Regions from separate parts of the Homo sapiens genome. Here region 1 is linked to region 2. Evidence: fine-mapped expression QTL. Tissue or cell type: testis. Region 2 holds a variant in brackets; the other region holds the start of a gene. All regions are shown on one strand. Distances are between the middles of the regions.

Region 1 (4,410 bases), 73 kb before region 2:
GTGTCTCCCAGTCAGGAGGTAGGGGGATCAGGGACCTGCTTGAGGAGGCAGTCTGTCCCTTAGCAGAGCTTGAGTGCTGCGCTTGGAGATCCACTGCTCCCTACAGAGCTGGGAGGCAGGAATGTTTAAATCTGCTGAAGCTGCACCCATAGCCGCCCCTTCCCCCAGGTGCTCTGTCCCAGGGAGATGTAAGTTTTATCGATAAGCCCCTGACTGAGGCTGCTGCCTTTCTTTCAGAGATGCTCTGCTCAGAGGGGAGGAATCTAGAGAAGCAGTCTGGCTACAGTGGTTTTGTCAAGCTGTGGTGGGCTCTGCCCAGTTTGAACTTCTTGGCGGCTTTGTTTATGCTGTGAGGGGAAAACCACCTACTCAAGCCTCAGTAATGGTGGACACCCCTCCCCCCACCAAGCTGGAGCATCCCAGGTCGACTTCAGACTGTTGTGCCGGTAGTGAGAATTTCAAGCCAGTGGAGCTTAGCTTGCTAGGCTCCGTGGGGCTGGAATCCACTGAGCTAGACCACTTGGCTTCCTAACTTCAGCCCCTTCTCCAGGGGAGTAAAGGATTCTGTCTCTCTGGTGTTCCAGGAGCCACTGGGGTATGAAAAGAAACTCCTGCAGCTAGGTCAGTGTTTGCCCAAATGACCATCCAGTTTTGTGCTTGAAACCCAGGGCCCTGGTGGCATAGGCACCGGAGGGAATCTCCTGGTCTGCAGGTTGTGAAGACAGTGGAAAAAGTGTAGTATCTGGGCCAGAGTGCACGGTTCCTCATGGCACAGTCCCTCATGGCTTCCCTTGGCTAGGGGAGGGAGTTCCCTGACCCCTTGCACTTCCCAGGTGAGGCGACACCCCACCCTGCTTCTGCTCGCACTCCGTGGGCTGCACCCACTGTCTAACCAGTCACATTGATATGAACTAGGTGCCTCAGTTGGAAATGCAGAAATCACCCACCTTCTGCGTTGATCTCACTGGGAGCTGCAGACTGGAGCTATTCCTATTCGGCCATCTTGCCAGCTGCCAACATTACAACTTTTAATAATAATTAACAAATACATTTTTGCACACTAGTTATTTTTCCATAAGATGAGATTTGATAATACTAAATTTTTTTAACATTACATTTTGGAAGATGAGTTAAAGATAAGAAATGCTCTCAGTAGGTATTAAATGCAGGATAAAAATATGCATACATTATAATTGTTTATGTGTAAAACACACTAAGGGCTTTTGCCTATTCTCTCAAGACAACAGTTATCAACACGGAAGACTTCTGAGACCAAATGTAGGCAGGGGTTTTTCCCCATCACCAAGTGAGCAATTAATTCTGTAGTGAACACCAACTGAGTATTCTCCAATTCAACTCCAACATTACCTGGAGATAGAGTCAGGTCCCAGAGCTTGGGGACTCAGTTTCCCAAGTTCCCCCATGCCCACTCCTCCAGACACCTTTTGCATGTCCAGGCCATCCTGAACTTCTGATCAACTGGCTTCAAGTTGGGGTTCCCACAATCCACTCTTTGGGTTTGATTAATTTGCTGGAGTGGCTCACAGAACTCATGAAAACAAATTTACCATTTTATTATAAGCGATATTACAAAGAAGACAGATGAAAAGATGCATAGGGCAAGGCGTATACAAAGGAACATGGAGCTTTCATGTCCTCTCTGGGTGCAACACCCCCCAGGAACCTCGACATGTTCAGCTATCTGGAAGCTCTTCAAACCTTGTTCTCTTGGATCTTTTAATAGGGATTTTATTGGAGAGACAGGATTGAAGCATGGACAACCATATTGAAATGTGATTGGACAGAAATGATGTGATATAAACTCAGTAAGGCCTGTCTGTTCAGATTCTTCTTGTCCTCTGTGCGGCATTCTTTACTCCACGGTAGGGGGCAGGACCCTTTCTGAAATGATTGTTTTATGACTCACAATCAGATTAGAATCCTGCCATGGCCAGTTGAAAGGAGAGCAGGAGAAGTTCAGAGGGAGAGAGAGATTGACTCTGTTTACTATAACAAGGGCTTTGGGAATTATGAGCCAGGAACTGTAGACCAAAACCTGTATGTATGTGTGTATATTTTATGCACACACACCCCCACACACAGAAACACACACATATATATGCAGATACATATATATACACACATATGTATGCACATGTGTATGTGTGTATCACAGTAGCATACACACATATAGAAATAAAAGAAAGTAAACTTAAATGTTAGCTATGGTTATGACCTGGGTGAAGAAATTCATTCTGGAATTCTTCCCAGTCAAGTTTATTGAAAAAAAATTAAATATATAAAATGTATCCTTTCGGTGTATAGTTCTATGAGTTTTGACAAAGGCAGGCCTTTCTCTAAGTTTTTGGTGGACATGTAATCACAACAGTCAAAATAAAAAATAGTTCCACCACCTCAAAAAGTTTCTGCATGCTCCATTGTACTCCTTCCTCCCTGGTCACACACCCAACACATGCAGCCCCTGGAAAACACCAATTTTTCATTCTTTATAAATTCTCTCATCCAAAATACCATATTCGAGAATCACACAGTATGTAATTTTTGAGTCTGGCTTCTTTCATTTAGCATAATGCTTTTGACATACCTCTATGTTGTTACATGTACCAGTATGCATTCTTCCAGGTTTTGATAATAAGTATAAAGCTGCAATAAACATTTGTATGCAGGTTTTTCTGTGAACATATGTTTGTTTTCTTTAGTACAAATATTGAGTGGAAATACTGGTTTGCATGGTAAGTGTACATTTAATTAAAAAAGAAACTGTCAAAACTTTTCCAAAGTGATTGTAGCATATTGCATCCCAACTGGCAATATATGAGAGTTCCAGTTGTTTAGTCTTGTCAGCACATGTTATTGTCAAGTTTTTGTAGTCTTAGCCACAATAACGGGTATGTAATGCTATCTTATTTTGGTTTTAGTTTGTATATCATTAATGACAACAGATGTTGAGCACTTTTTGATGTGCTTAATTGCCATTTAAATATCATCCTCAATTAAAATATCAATTTTTTCTCATTTAAAAATCAGATTGCTTGTTTTCTTGTCATTAAGACCTTTTATATCATATCAGATATGTGTTCTTCAAGTATTTTATTCCAATCTGTGGCTTGTCTTTTTATTTTAAGTTTTATTTGAAAAGTAGAGATTTTAATTTTGAGGAAGTCCAGTTTTCCAATTTTTACTTTTCAAGATTATGCTTTTTGTGTCATATTTAAATTTCTTTTTGCCTAACCCAAGGTGACAGAGATTTTCTTCTATATTTTCTTCTAGCAGTCCTTGTGACTTTATTAGGAGAAAGGGTATTTAAAGAGATAATTAAGGTTGAATGAGTCATAAAAGTAGGGCCCTAATTCTATAAGACTGGTGTCCTTAAGAAAAAGAGACACCAGAGGTGCTCACACACAGAGAAAAAGCAATGTGGGGCCACAGCTCGCTAAAAATGACTATTTACAAGCCAAGAAGAGAGGCATCAGGAAACAGCAAACATGCTAGCCCCTTGAAGAGAGGCATCAGGAAGCATCAAACATGCTAGCCCCTTGTTCTTGAACTTCTGTCCTCCAGGAGAAAATAAATTCCTGTTGCTTATGCCACCCAATATGTAGTATTTTATTATGGCAGTCCAAGCTGACTGCTGCGAACAGTATAAGTCCTTCAACTTTGTTCTATCTTTTCAAAATTGTTTGAGCTATTGTGTTCCTTTGCTTTCCCACTCCTCCCACCCTACCATATTAGAATTTGATGGCAAATTTCCACAAAAAAATTTTGCTGACATTTTTGTTGTAACTGTATTGACTCTACAGATCTATTAGGGTGGAATTGACATCTTAATGTATTGAGTCTTCTGATCCATCAACCTAAAATATATTTTAATTTATTTAGGTCCTCTTTTATTTCCTTTATAAGTGTAGTTTTTAGTATATAAATCTTGAGTTGTACTTTATTACACTTATATCTCAGTAATGTTTCTGATGTTATAAATAATACTCTATTTGTTTCAATAGTCTGTTTATTTCAGTTTCCCATTGTTCATTGTTAGCATGTAAAAATACAATGGATATTTGTTTATGGAGTTTGTTTTCAGTAAAATTGTTAAATTTATTTACTAGTTATACTAGCTTCTTTGTAGATTGTTAAGATTCTGTATGTAGATAATATGTCTTTCTTTCAAAACTGTATGTCTTTAATTTTTTTGTTTTTATTTATTACACTGAATAAAACCTCCAATAACATGTTAAATAGAAGTGATAAGAAAGGACATTTTGCCTGTTCCTGATCACAGAGAAAAATACTAAGTCTGTCATTAAGAATGGCATTATATGAAGGCTTTTAGTAGATATCTTATGTCAGGTTGAGGAAATTTTCTTCTGTTTGCTTATTTTAACATTAATA
Region 2 (4,410 bases):
CAACAGTCTCTTGGTACATGGGGACACTCAGGCTTTTTATGAAGCCTTGTAGAGTGTTATGTCTTAGTTGTTAAGCCCATGGGATGTCTATTACGAGCTTTAATCTGGTTTGCATGGGAGGAGAATGAAATTGAAGATGGTAGAATTCAGTTCCCAGGTACACAGTTGAGGTGAGCCATGGGTAATGTGCATTCCCTGAGCATGAAAGCTCCAAGAATTCCCTCTTGATCAACTTCCCTCATTCCCGCCGGGTGAGTAGAACTCGTAGCTTGAAAGTTTACATAATGAGATGGTGTAGCTTGATAGCTTACATAATGAGATGGTGTACATGCCTTCTCCTTCCACCTCGCCTCTCTTTTGGTCTGTATCGATGCTGGCAAGGTAGAAAACCTGAGCATTTACCTATGGACCCCAGGGAAGGGCACATATAGTAGCTGAGAAGTATGTACCTTGTTTCTATCAGAGCCACTTAGGTGCAATAATGTCATTCCTGTGTGTATATTAAAGTCTTAGGCCCCACCCCACAAAGAGATTCTAATTTTATTATCTTGGGTGGGGTCAGGGAATCATTTTTCGAAATGCCTCTGGTGATGAAAATCTAAAGCCCAGTTTGAGAACTATTGCCCAACTACAAGGTAGATGCCTTAATACCCAGGACTTAACAAAATTTGGCGAGGGGAAGTGTGCAGTTGAAGTTCAGAGCCTTGAGACAATTGGCTTTGGCAGTACCAAGAATGGACCAGGAGTTGTCACAGCTGTGAATCCAGCAAAGACAGAGACCAACATGCAGAGGCTAAGCTGCAGGAGGCACCTCATGGGTCAGGAGGATTGGAAGTCTTTTCTCCAGTGTTCCCAAATTAAGGAAGATTCCTTCACATCCATTGCAATCCAGAAGGATGAGGAAATAAAAATACAGGAAAAACAGAGCATTTGTTCTATAGAATTTAAATTATATCCATCAGGTCATAGTTAAAAAAAAGGTAATGATTGTTTAATATGTTCTTTTCTTAAAATGTTGGTTTTACCCAGTTTTGAAAGCCTCACTGGAGGCTGGTCAGTTCCCCTTCTACAATGGCTGATTTTAAGTTCATATTCCAGCCACTTCCTTTATGAACTCTCACACTCAGAGTCCACTATGCAAAACCCTAATTGCCTAGGGTCCAGGTACCAGACAACTGGGGGCAGACTCTGTGCTTTGGAGCTGGAGAATTAAAATTAGCCAATCTATAGGCATCCCCAAGAAACCTCACCCCAGCCGACTTGCCATACATAAGTTGCCACTGTCATCCCTGCTTGCTGTTAATCCTGTCCCTGGATGCAAAATTCTATGGCCTAATGTAGCAGACTTCTCTCCTTTGGAGTTCCAAATAACAAGGAGTTCTGCCTTTTTTTCTGTGTGTGTGACATTGTGTTGTATCCTGCCATTACAAAAATTTAAATTTTATAAAACATTATGTTATGTTTAATGGACCCAATTAAGCATTCATCACTTCCCCATTGTCCTACTCATCCTGCACTTCAATTCTCCCTGTGACATGAGCAACGATGCATTATGTCACAAATAAAATGACTTATTTTCATGTTTAGGTGTGCACTGACTTTTTTAAATGAAGAAAGCTATCATAATATTGTGATGAATTAAGCAAGGTCTGATCCTCTACTGTTTAGCAGCATCGTTTAAATCAATACATTATTTCTGGAAAACTTTACTCACTCACTTGCCACAGAGGAATCTTTTTGGGCAGAGGGTTTCAGAGGCAATAGCAAGGAGGGAGAAGACTCTGTTAGATGGAGTTTGGATAAAATAAAGGCCTGAATGTTCTCTATAATAAACACATTCCTTCTGAGGCTGAGGAATTTGACTGTCTCTTGTATGTGAATGCTGACCACATCCTTCCAGCTGTTCGTTTGTGACTTATTTTCTCCTTTATTTTCTCTTTGAAGTGTATACAGGAAGAAGTGAGGAGGGGAGAGCAGAAGGAAAGTGAAAAAAGCAGAGGCTAAAAAGAGCACCCAATAAAACATTAAAAAGGGTACCAGAAACCCTAGACTTTTTCTTTCAAAAACTTCACTCAGTCTTTTATAATGCCTTCAAATACTATGATACAGTGAAGACTATCTTTGAAAAGAATGTGTTGTTCACTAAAGGAAAATGTATCAATAATAAAAGAGGGTATCAATTCAAACTTCCAACTTAGGTTATTAAAGAGACATGGACCAAAGGCCATACGAATACATAAAACTTGTAGGTTGTACAAAAACATGTAACATTGTACAAAAACAAGAACTAGAAATACCATTTGACCCAGTAATGGGATTGCTGGGTATATACCCAAAGGATTATA[A/C]ATCATGCTACTATAAAGACACATGCACACGTATGTTTGTTGCGGCACTATTCACAATAGCAAAGACTTGAAACTAACCCAAATGTCCATCAATGATAGACTGGATTAAGAAAATGTGGCACATATACACCATGGAATACTGTGCAGCCATGAAAAAGGATGAGTTCATGTCCTTTGTAGGGACATGGATGAAGCTGGAAACCATTGTGAGCAAACTATCACAAGGACAGAAAATCAAACACCACATGTTCTCACTCGTAGGTGGGAATTGAACAATGAGAACACTTGGACATAGGGCGGGGAACATCACACACTGGGGCCTGTCGTGGGGTGGGGGAATGGGGGAGGGATAGCATTAGGAGAAATACCTAATGTAAATGATGAGTTAATGGGTGCAGAAAACCAACATGGCACATGTATACATATGTAACAAACCTGCACATTGTGCACATGTACCCTAAAACTTAAAGTATAATAATAATAATAGTAATAAACATGTAACATTAGAAATTTTGTGCTCCGTATGCCTGGTATATTTGCTTTAGGTATGTCAAATTTATAAAGTTGTTAGTTTGTATTTTAATAATGTGCTCTCTAGAATAGGGAGGCCCCCTGAAGGTAAAATCGGTTACAGATTTCTTAAGATAGTGCAATCTAATGGAAAGGGTCATGTAGAATAAGTTTAATAATGACTACAACAATAATCAAATATAGCAGTGTGGTCTGAGTTTATATCAGCTATCAAAGAATGCATAATGAACCATCCCCAAGACTTGTAACTTAAACAATCATTGAATATTTCCCTCAATATTGTGGATAGCTTGTGCTTAGCATGGTGGTTCTTCTGCTGGTCTTATCTGGGCTCAGTTGAACAGCTGACACAGGACTGTCCAAAATAACTACATTCACATACTGGTTATTGAGAGATCTTGTTTTCCCCATTCAGGCTAGACTAGTTGTCTTACAGCATGGCAGCTGAGTCCCAACACAACATAAATGAATGCTTCAAAGTCTCTGAAAGCTTAGATCTAGATGGCACACAGCAATACTTCAACCACATTCTCTTGGTCAAAACAATTTACAGGGAAGCCAGTATCCAAGGGAAAGAAAAATGCACTCTGTTTCTTGATAAGTGTGGCAAATTGCAAAAGCGTAGGTAAGGATGGACGGTATAGTTAAGGTTATCTTTTGAAATAATCTAACCACAGACTTTAGTTTTCTCATTTACAAAATATGGGTTTGGATCAGTTATATTAATAACCTTGCAACTAAAATTTTATGATTAAAAAGACACTTTTACAATTAAAATGACTGTATTTTTTTCCTTCATTTTAATTTTAGGTTCAAGGGGTGCATGTGTAGGTTTACTACATGGGTAAATTACATGTCACTGAGGCTTGATGTACGAATGATCCTGTCACCCAGGCAGTGAGCATAGTACCTGATAGGTAGCAGCCTTTCAACCCACACCCCTCTCCCACCCTCCCCCCGGAGCAGTCCCCAGTGTCTACTCTTCCCATCTTTGTGTCCCTGTGTATTTAATGTTTAGTCCCATTAATAAGTGAGAACATATGATATTTGGTTTTCTGTTTCTGCATTAATTCATTTAGGATGATGGCCTCCAGCTATGTCCATGTTGCTTCAAAGGACATGATTTCATTTTTTATGGCCTCATAGTATTCCACAGTTTATATGAACCACATTTTCTTTATCCAGTCCACTATCAACAGGCATCTTAATTGACTGCATGTTTTTGCTATTGTGAATAGTGCTATGATAAACATATGTGTGCATATGTCTTTCTGGTAGAATGATTTATTTTTCTCTGGGCTCGTGCCTAGTAGTGGGATTGTTGGAGTGAATGTTAGTTCTGTTTTGAATTCTTTGAGAAATCACTACACTGCTTTCCACAGAGGCTGAACTAATTTACCTTCCCACCAGCAGCCTATAAGTGTCCTCCTTTCTCTGTAACCCCACTAGCATCTGTTGTTGTTTTTTTGACTTTTTAATAATCATCATTCTGACTGGTGTGAGATGGTCTCTCATTGTGGTTTTGATTTCCATT

The links. PIP is the estimated chance that this variant, and not a neighbour inherited with it, causes the effect.
Region 1: LINC02534 starts here. The variant in region 2 is the best candidate, but not a certain one, in a credible set for the expression of LINC02534 in testis (GTEx, PIP 0.61).

The regions. Positions count from the first base shown.
Region 1 is chr6:115,641,453-115,645,862 of GRCh38, reverse strand. LINC02534 (long intergenic non-protein coding RNA 2534) reads left to right here and starts at 2,028. Exons shown (of 4, transcript NR_134602.1): 1 at 2,028-2,058.
Region 2 is chr6:115,567,963-115,572,372 of GRCh38, reverse strand. No RefSeq gene overlaps it. Among named protein-coding and RNA genes, the nearest start is that of LINC02534, 74 kb to the left of the region's middle. The variant A/C (reference allele first, on the strand shown) is at 2,346.